Homo sapiens: one gene and its partner. The protein of the gene in region 1 interacts with the protein of each later gene in a biochemical or structural test. Each region holds a gene or a part of one and is shown on either strand. Other genes may lie near its edges. The genes, in order: ARAF and IRAK2.

Region 1 (3,815 bases):
TCTCATTTGCCTGCTGCGAACTGGGTCTGTGTGTGGGCCACCATTCTTGTTACTGCATTGCCAGGAAGGCTTCCATCTTTCCTTCCCCTCTGCTTGGGCTACAATGGTAATGTTCTGTTTATAGTGTTGGTTCTTGTTATTCATTAATTCTAATACCTTGATTTAAACAATATTATCATCATCACCATAATCTAATCATTGCTTAATTATTATAATTGCTGTAATATGTAATCAATACAGTATTCATCTAGTCACGCTAAGAAAGCCAGGTGTCTCCTTTTTGCTGCTATAGTTACTATGTAGCATAGTACTGTATACCTATATACTACAGGTAGTACTGGATAGCGTCTACCAACCCTGGGGATGTTGGCATTGGCTTTTCCTCTGTGTCAGATGGGCACAATTATGTTACAGAGAATAAGGTAGCTAATGCAATGATCAGTTTTACAGTTGAGGAACATGAGGCCCAGAGAGGTTAAATGTCTTTCCCAAGGTTGTACCTTGAGTACCTGGTGAGGCCTAGATTTGAACATGAGTCCAGACTCCAAGCTCTTTACCTCTAAGCTTCTCATGCTGCTGAACAGGCTCTAATCATCATATATCACCAATGTTTTAATCCTGCATCTATCCATATTATATTGATACATCAGTGAGGAAGGTTGGCATTCTGCTTTCTCATCTGTGAGATGGTCACAGACCCAGGTAATGGTCAGAGTCAGAGGGGTGGGGGATGTTAATGATTAGAAATGCTGCTGTAGGCAGGGAGGGGGAGGGGCAGCAATTCCTCCCTCCTGCTTTTGTTGGGAGACTCGGATGGGGAAGCTCCACATATGAGCCCACAGCACAGAATCATAGCCCAGTAAACACATCTCACAAATTCATGGAATCTGGCAATGCTTTGGTCCTGAGTGCCCCAAAAGACAGGGTGAAAATAAATGACCGAGGAAGGTAAAGAACAGTGCCACTCCTGATGCTCGGTAAGTGACAGTTGCTATTTTTCCTCCCCACCTCTGACACTGCCCTCCCTGCCTGCAGGAAGACGCGACATGTCAACATCTTGCTGTTTATGGGCTTCATGACCCGGCCGGGATTTGCCATCATCACACAGTGGTGTGAGGGCTCCAGCCTCTACCATCACCTGCATGTGGCCGACACACGCTTCGACATGGTCCAGCTCATCGACGTGGCCCGGCAGACTGCCCAGGGCATGGAGTGAGCCTCCCAGCCTGGGGAGGGGTGGGGGGAAAGGGTGGGGGAAATGAGGTAACCCCCAGCCAATCCGCCACCTGCCTCCACCCCCACAGCTACCTCCATGCCAAGAACATCATCCACCGAGATCTCAAGTCTAACAGTATCTATCTGTCCCTGGGCTGGGGTTGAGTGGGGGTGTCAAGGGCTTAGAAGGATGCCTCTTGTGGGGGTTCTGGGAATTACAAGGGAGGGGCATGTGTCCCAGAGCTCCTTGCCAGGTGGCAGAGCTGTGGCCAGCCAGGGGGCTTTAATGGCAGTCTCTTAGAAGTCAGAGGTGTGGCTGGTTCAGGTACTATTCTTGGGGACTCTGGTTAGAGTCTGATGTCTGACAGTTGTGGAGGGCATTATGGTCAACATCAGAGGCATAGTGGGTTCGGATGCCCTCCGAGGGGCTTCCTGTTCAGGAGTCACAGCGGGGCTGAGTGTGGGGGGCATTAGCAGGCGTTCCCTGCCCACGTCAAGGTTGTGGATAGTTTGCGTGATATTAAGGGGCTCCTGGTCAGGATCAGAGGGATGAGTGGTATAGGGGCACCAATGGGAACCTCCCAGGCAGGGTGAGAGGCATGGCTATTAGGAGTCCCTGTAGTGGTCCTTGACCCTGGCGGACATCTTCCTACATGAGGGGCTCACGGTGAAGATCGGTGACTTTGGCTTGGCCACAGTGAAGACTCGATGGAGCGGGGCCCAGCCCTTGGAGCAGCCCTCAGGATCTGTGCTGTGGATGGTGAGTTGGGCCAGGCTGGATGGGGGGCACATGGGGACGTGGGCTCCGGGATTGGGGTGTGTGGGGCCAAGTGGGGACGGGGATGCCTGTGCCAGATGTGGGTGTCTGGACTCCTCATGTCCCACCTCGTGTGGGTGGCTCTGAGTTGTACCCTGTGTGGCCAGTGGGATCTGGGACTGTGGACCAGCCATTTGCTGACCTCCGTGGTCCCCCTGCCTGGTCTGGCCTGTTGTAGGCAGCTGAGGTGATCCGTATGCAGGACCCGAACCCCTACAGCTTCCAGTCAGACGTCTATGCCTACGGGGTTGTGCTCTACGAGCTTATGACTGGCTCACTGCCTTACAGCCACATTGGCTGCCGTGACCAGGTGAGCCCCACACCTTACCCACAGTTCCCTGGGCTGAGGGATCCCCTCAGGCATCCATACCCCACATCCCCTCCTTTGCACTGATAAATGCCACACTTTCCCCAGAAACCTAAAATTTTCTAGGATAAGGACTCCCAGAATCCCTTGGGCTCCAGACACTTACAATAAATTCTCTGGGTCTCCCCTACCCCAACTTCCCTCTTCTCACATCCACAGCCCTCTGGGACAAAAATCTTTGAAGTCCAAAATGCCCCGAATCTCTATACCTAGAATCCCCTGAGGCCCCCAAATACCCCAAAGCCCTCTGTATCCCTAGACGCCTATAGTCGTCTGCTCTGGGTACTCAAAATCCCCCAGATCCTCAAAGCCCAGATCTCATTTCTCCCAGCATCCCATTTTTCCCCAGAAACAGAACCCCTTTGTGCTTCTGGAATAGTCATGGACACCCACAGTCACCTAGGCCTTGGGTATCTAGCAGGCCCCAGGGCCGGGATACCTAGAACCCTCTAGGCCCCAGACCCCCACAGAAGTACAAGCTCCCCCAGACCCAGAACTCCATGTTTTCCCGAGACTCAGTACTTTCCAGGTCCCTAAGCCTCCTAGAAACCCGTGGGCCTATAATCCTCTGAGCCCCAGATACCTACAATCCTTGACAACCCCAAATTTAAATCCCTCTGTTCTGAAAGCAGAGAATCCTCCCAAGTCCTCAAGGACAGAGAATCCTCTGGGCCTTGATACTGACAGTACCCCAGCTCGCTAAAAATGAACCTTCCAAGTCCCTCAATACAAAATTCCTTGGGCCTCCCAGCCCCTGACCCCAGATCACCCCTTTCCTGCCCCCGTCTGCCCCCAGATTATCTTTATGGTGGGCCGTGGCTATCTGTCCCCGGACCTCAGCAAAATCTCCAGCAACTGCCCCAAGGCCATGCGGCGCCTGCTGTCTGACTGCCTCAAGTTCCAGCGGGAGGAGCGGCCCCTCTTCCCCCAGGTGGGCTGGGTAGGGGGCTGGACACCTTGGGTGGGTGACTCTGGGATAGAGGAAGACTGAGATGGAGGCAGATGTGAATATGAAAGCTCAGAGGTATAGTGTGTGTGTGTGTGTGTGTGTGTGTGTGTGTTTCACCATGAGGCTGGGACTGTTGGGGGTGTGTGTGTATGTGTGTTTCGCCATGAGGCTGGGACTGTTGGGTGTGTGTGTGTGTGTGTGTGTGTGTGTGTGTGTGTTTCGCCATGAGGCTGGGGCTGTTGGGATGCCCACAGGGCTCTGGACACCCCTCCTCACCCCCACCTGCCCTCAGATCCTGGCCACAATTGAGCTGCTGCAACGGTCACTCCCCAAGATTGAGCGGAGTGCCTCGGAACCCTCCTTGCACCGCACCCAGGCCGATGAGTTGCCTGCCTGCCTACTCAGCGCAGCCCGCCTTGTGCCTTAGGCCCCGCCCAAGCCACCAGGGAGCCAATCTCAGCCCTCCA
Region 2 (3,815 bases), on another chromosome or scaffold:
TCTCAGTCTCCGTTTCTGGAGATGGGGCAGTTGAGATGTCATGTGTTGCAGAGCAGTAAAGCAGGATGAGGACCACCATACTCGTTGAAGGCAGACAGTTTTCATCTTTCCACCCTGGGGCCAGGCCCTTAGGGGTCAGAGTATGTGGTACCTGGGAGGTTATTGGTGGCGTTGGAGGAGGAGAGGGCAGAAGAGGGGTGGGACATGAGGAAGTAGATCATTCTTTCCGTCTGACTCCTCACACCTGCACTGACGCCCGATTCCAGATGCTGCCACCCCAATGTCTTACCTGTGCTGGGCTTCTGTGCTGCAAGACAGTTTCACAGCTTCATCTACCCCTACATGGCAAATGGTTCCCTACAGGACAGACTGCAGGGTCAGGTAAGGGACTGGGTCATGGTCAGAGAATGGGACCAGGCTGCACCCAGCCATGGGGTCAAGGGTTAAGGACTTACAGAAGTTCAGAGGGGAGAGGGGCCATCTAGGTGAGACCAGGGAGACTTCAAGGAGAGAAGTGGGGCCAGGATACATAAGATCTGGTTAAGTGCTCACTTTGGCAGCACATATACCAAAATTGGAACGATACAGAGAAGATCAGCATGGCCTCTGAATGAGGATGACAAAATATGAAAAAGAAAAAGAAAAGCTCAAAAAGATCTGATTAAACATCTTCAGGAAAAATCTATAAAAAATTATTTGACGAGAAGCATTTCATTCAAATCAAGAGCAGGACAAAGGTATCTCATAGAACTAACTTCGTTCGTCATGGTTCTGGAGGTGTTAGCCAATGCAGTAGGACAAGAAAAAGAATTAAGAGGTAAAGAGTATGGAAAAGTGGAGGTGAATTTTTATTATAAAATGTTCTTCTAATATATACCTATTTGCTTGTGTGTTTATGGAATGTCTCTGGAAAGATACACAAGAAACTGGTTTACTGGCTGCTGCTAGGGAGCAGAACTAGGTGATTGGGGCCTAGGATAAGAAGCAAACTTACTATTAGAGTATTATATCATGTGAAGGTAATCCTTAATAAAAATTACAGTGTTTTAAAACAGGTCTTCTGCTTATCTTATCCTCAAATAGAGGGGAAAGAGTTATTCCATAACAGAATTATTGCTTCCCATGGCAGGGACAAGACAAAGCAGTTACTCACGGCATACTAATGATCTTTAGCTTTTCTGGGCACTCACTGTATGCAGGTTGCTGTGATAAGGGTTTTACGTAGGTCATCACCTCCAGGCCGTGCCACAACCAAAGCAATTTCTTCCCTCATTTTTCAAAAGAGGAATCTCTGACACATAGAGACAAAGTGACTTGCCCAAAGGAACATAGAGGACAAATGTCAGGCCAGAGCTTACATTGGGTTCGTCTGGCTCTAGGTTTCAGAGTTTTTGAGAAGAAATTAGCAGGGGCTGTCCAGGCCAGTTCTTAGAGGATGTGGGACCTACACCAGGGCTTCAAAAATAGGTGATGAGGCTGGGCACAGTGGCTCACGCCTGTAATCCCAGTACATTGGGAAGCCGAGGTGGGTGGATCACTTGAGGTCAGGAGTTTGACACCAGCCTGACCAATATGGTGAAACCCTGTCTCTACTAAAAATATAAGAATTAGCCAGGCGTGGTGGCGTGTGCCTGTAGTACCAGCTACTGAGGAGGCTGAGACAGGAGAATCACTTGAACCCGGGAGGCAGAGGTTGCGGTGAGCCGAGATTGCACCACTGCACTCCAGCCTGGGCGACAAAGTGAGACTCCGTCTCAAAAAAAAAAAAAAAAAAAAAACCAAAACGGTGATGATTTAGCCTGGGAGAGTCAGTCTTAGAACAACAGTGGGAGCAAATGAGAGGCTTTAGCCCATCCCACAATCCCCATCAGCCCTGGTGAAGTTTCCCCTAATACAGATAAAATCAGCGTAAGGCCCAGGTGCTTGGCTTGCAAACACAAGCTCCCTAGCTCCTCTCCCATCCAGCTTCTTTTAGAGAGAAATTCCAGAGCAGCCTCTGTAATGGACATGATAAAAATAACTGCTGATTGAGCACCTACTGTGTGGCAGGTGCTATGCTAGGGGTATACCATATACTCCCTTGAATCCTTACAGCAACCCTAAAATATAGGGATTAACATTTCCATTTTATACCCAAGGAAACTGAGGCTCAGAGATGTTAAGTGTCTTTTTCCAAAATTATACAGCTAATGCATGTCTGAACTGGGAGTTACACCTAGATCTGTCTGATGTCAAAACCCATAGTACAGGGTCAGGCACATGGCTCATGCCTGTAATTCCAGCACTTTGGGAGAGCGAGGTGGACGGATCGCTTGAGCCCAGGAGTTCGAGACCAGCCTGGCCAACATGGCAAAACCCTGTCTCCACGAAAAATACAAAAATTAGTTGAGAGTGGTGGCACGTGCCTGTGATCCCAGCTATTCGGGAGTCTGAGGCGGGAGAGTCACTTCAGCCTGGGATTTTAAGGCTACAGTGAGCTATGATGCTGCACTCCAGTCTGGGTGACAGAGCAAGACCTGTCTCAAAACCAGCAAACACAAAACAATGAAAAAACTCACAGTATCATGCTGAGCCCTGTGACAGAGGACATGAAGGGTGGGAGGAGGATCAGGAGCCTGGGACCCTGCCATCAGGACTTCGTTTTTTTGTTTTTGTTTTTGTTTTTTTTTGAGATGGAGTCTCGCTCTGTCACCCAGGCTGCAGTGCAGTGGTGCAATCTCGGCTTACTGCAAGCTCTGCCTCCTGGGTTCACGCCATTCTCCTGCCTCAGCCTCCCAAATAGCTGGGACTACAGGCAGCCGCCACCAGGACCGGCTAATTTTTTGTATTTTTAGTAGAGATGGGGTTTCACCGTGTTAGCCAGGATGGTCTCGATCTCCTGAACTAGTGATCTGCCTGCCTGGGCCTCCCAGTGTGCTGGGATTACAGGTGTGAGCCACCGCACCTGGCTGCCATCAGGACTTTAAAAAGGTACATTGTGACTATTTGTCCTCCTGCTTTTCTTTCTCTTAGGGTGGCTCGGACCCCCTCCCCTGGCCCCAGCGTGTCAGCATCTGCTCAGGGCTGCTCTGTGCCGTCGAGTACCTGCATGGTCTGGAGATCATCCACAGCAACGTCAAGAGGTGAGAGAGGTGGGCTGGACCCTGCTGGGGCCTGGGCTGCAAGGGTGGAACTGGTGCCTATTCCTGGCTCACCTCCCGCTCCGCCACTCACCCCTGTCCTCTTTGTTTTTCTCTTCCTACCTCCTCTCCTCTGCCCTCCCCTGGATGTCTTTTTCTCTGTTATGCCCTCAAAAATGAGTGTTTCCGGGCTGTGCTCCAAGTCCAATTGCTCTCAGGATGAATTGCCTACCTGTCACATTTGTCTTTCTGAGCTGCTGTTTTCCCAACAAGCCCTCCACACCTTGCTGCGTCGCACTGTCCACTCAGCAGCTGGCCTGGACCTCATCCTCGAACTTTGGGCCATGTCTGCCAACCCCCTGGGATTTTGAGCTCCTCGTTCAGTGTCTTTTCTGAGACCTGTCCCCTTCTTGTGTAGCTGTTGGTGTTAGCATCTTGTCTGGAAGGCTCCTGCAGGTTAGGCCTGCACCCCTGCATGTCAGTGCCATGCACATGAGAGGGAGAGGTCCCCATCTGGAGACGGTTAGGATAGGGAGGGATTCCGAAGATACCAGAATATCTGGCAGAACTGGCTCCAGAGACACAGAACTCGTATTTCCCCAAAGTTCTCTTTCCATTTGACTTGTGGAAGTCCTTTCCTCTTTTCTCTCCCCCAATTTTTTTTTTGTTTTTTGAGACGGAGTTTCACGCTTGTCA

What was found.
Region 2: the proteins of ARAF (region 1) and IRAK2 form a complex in vitro, tested with the Homo sapiens proteins (one study listed by BioGRID).

What each region holds. Positions count from the first base shown.
Region 1 is NC_000023.11:47,567,683-47,571,497, forward strand, and holds part of ARAF (serine/threonine-protein kinase A-Raf), read left to right. Parts: intron 1-1,035; coding exon 1,036-1,212; intron 1,213-1,304; coding exon 1,305-1,351; intron 1,352-1,856; coding exon 1,857-1,975; intron 1,976-2,210; coding exon 2,211-2,342; intron 2,343-3,195; coding exon 3,196-3,330; intron 3,331-3,640; coding exon 3,641-3,775; 3' UTR 3,776-3,815. UniProt on the Homo sapiens protein: Involved in the transduction of mitogenic signals from the cell membrane to the nucleus. May also regulate the TOR signaling cascade. Phosphorylates PFKFB2.
Region 2 is NC_000003.12:10,216,668-10,220,482, forward strand, and holds part of IRAK2 (interleukin-1 receptor-associated kinase-like 2), read left to right. Parts: intron 1-266; coding exon 267-381; intron 382-544; exon of another isoform or gene 545-652; intron 653-3,012; coding exon 3,013-3,122; intron 3,123-3,815. UniProt on the Homo sapiens protein: Binds to the IL-1 type I receptor following IL-1 engagement, triggering intracellular signaling cascades leading to transcriptional up-regulation and mRNA stabilization.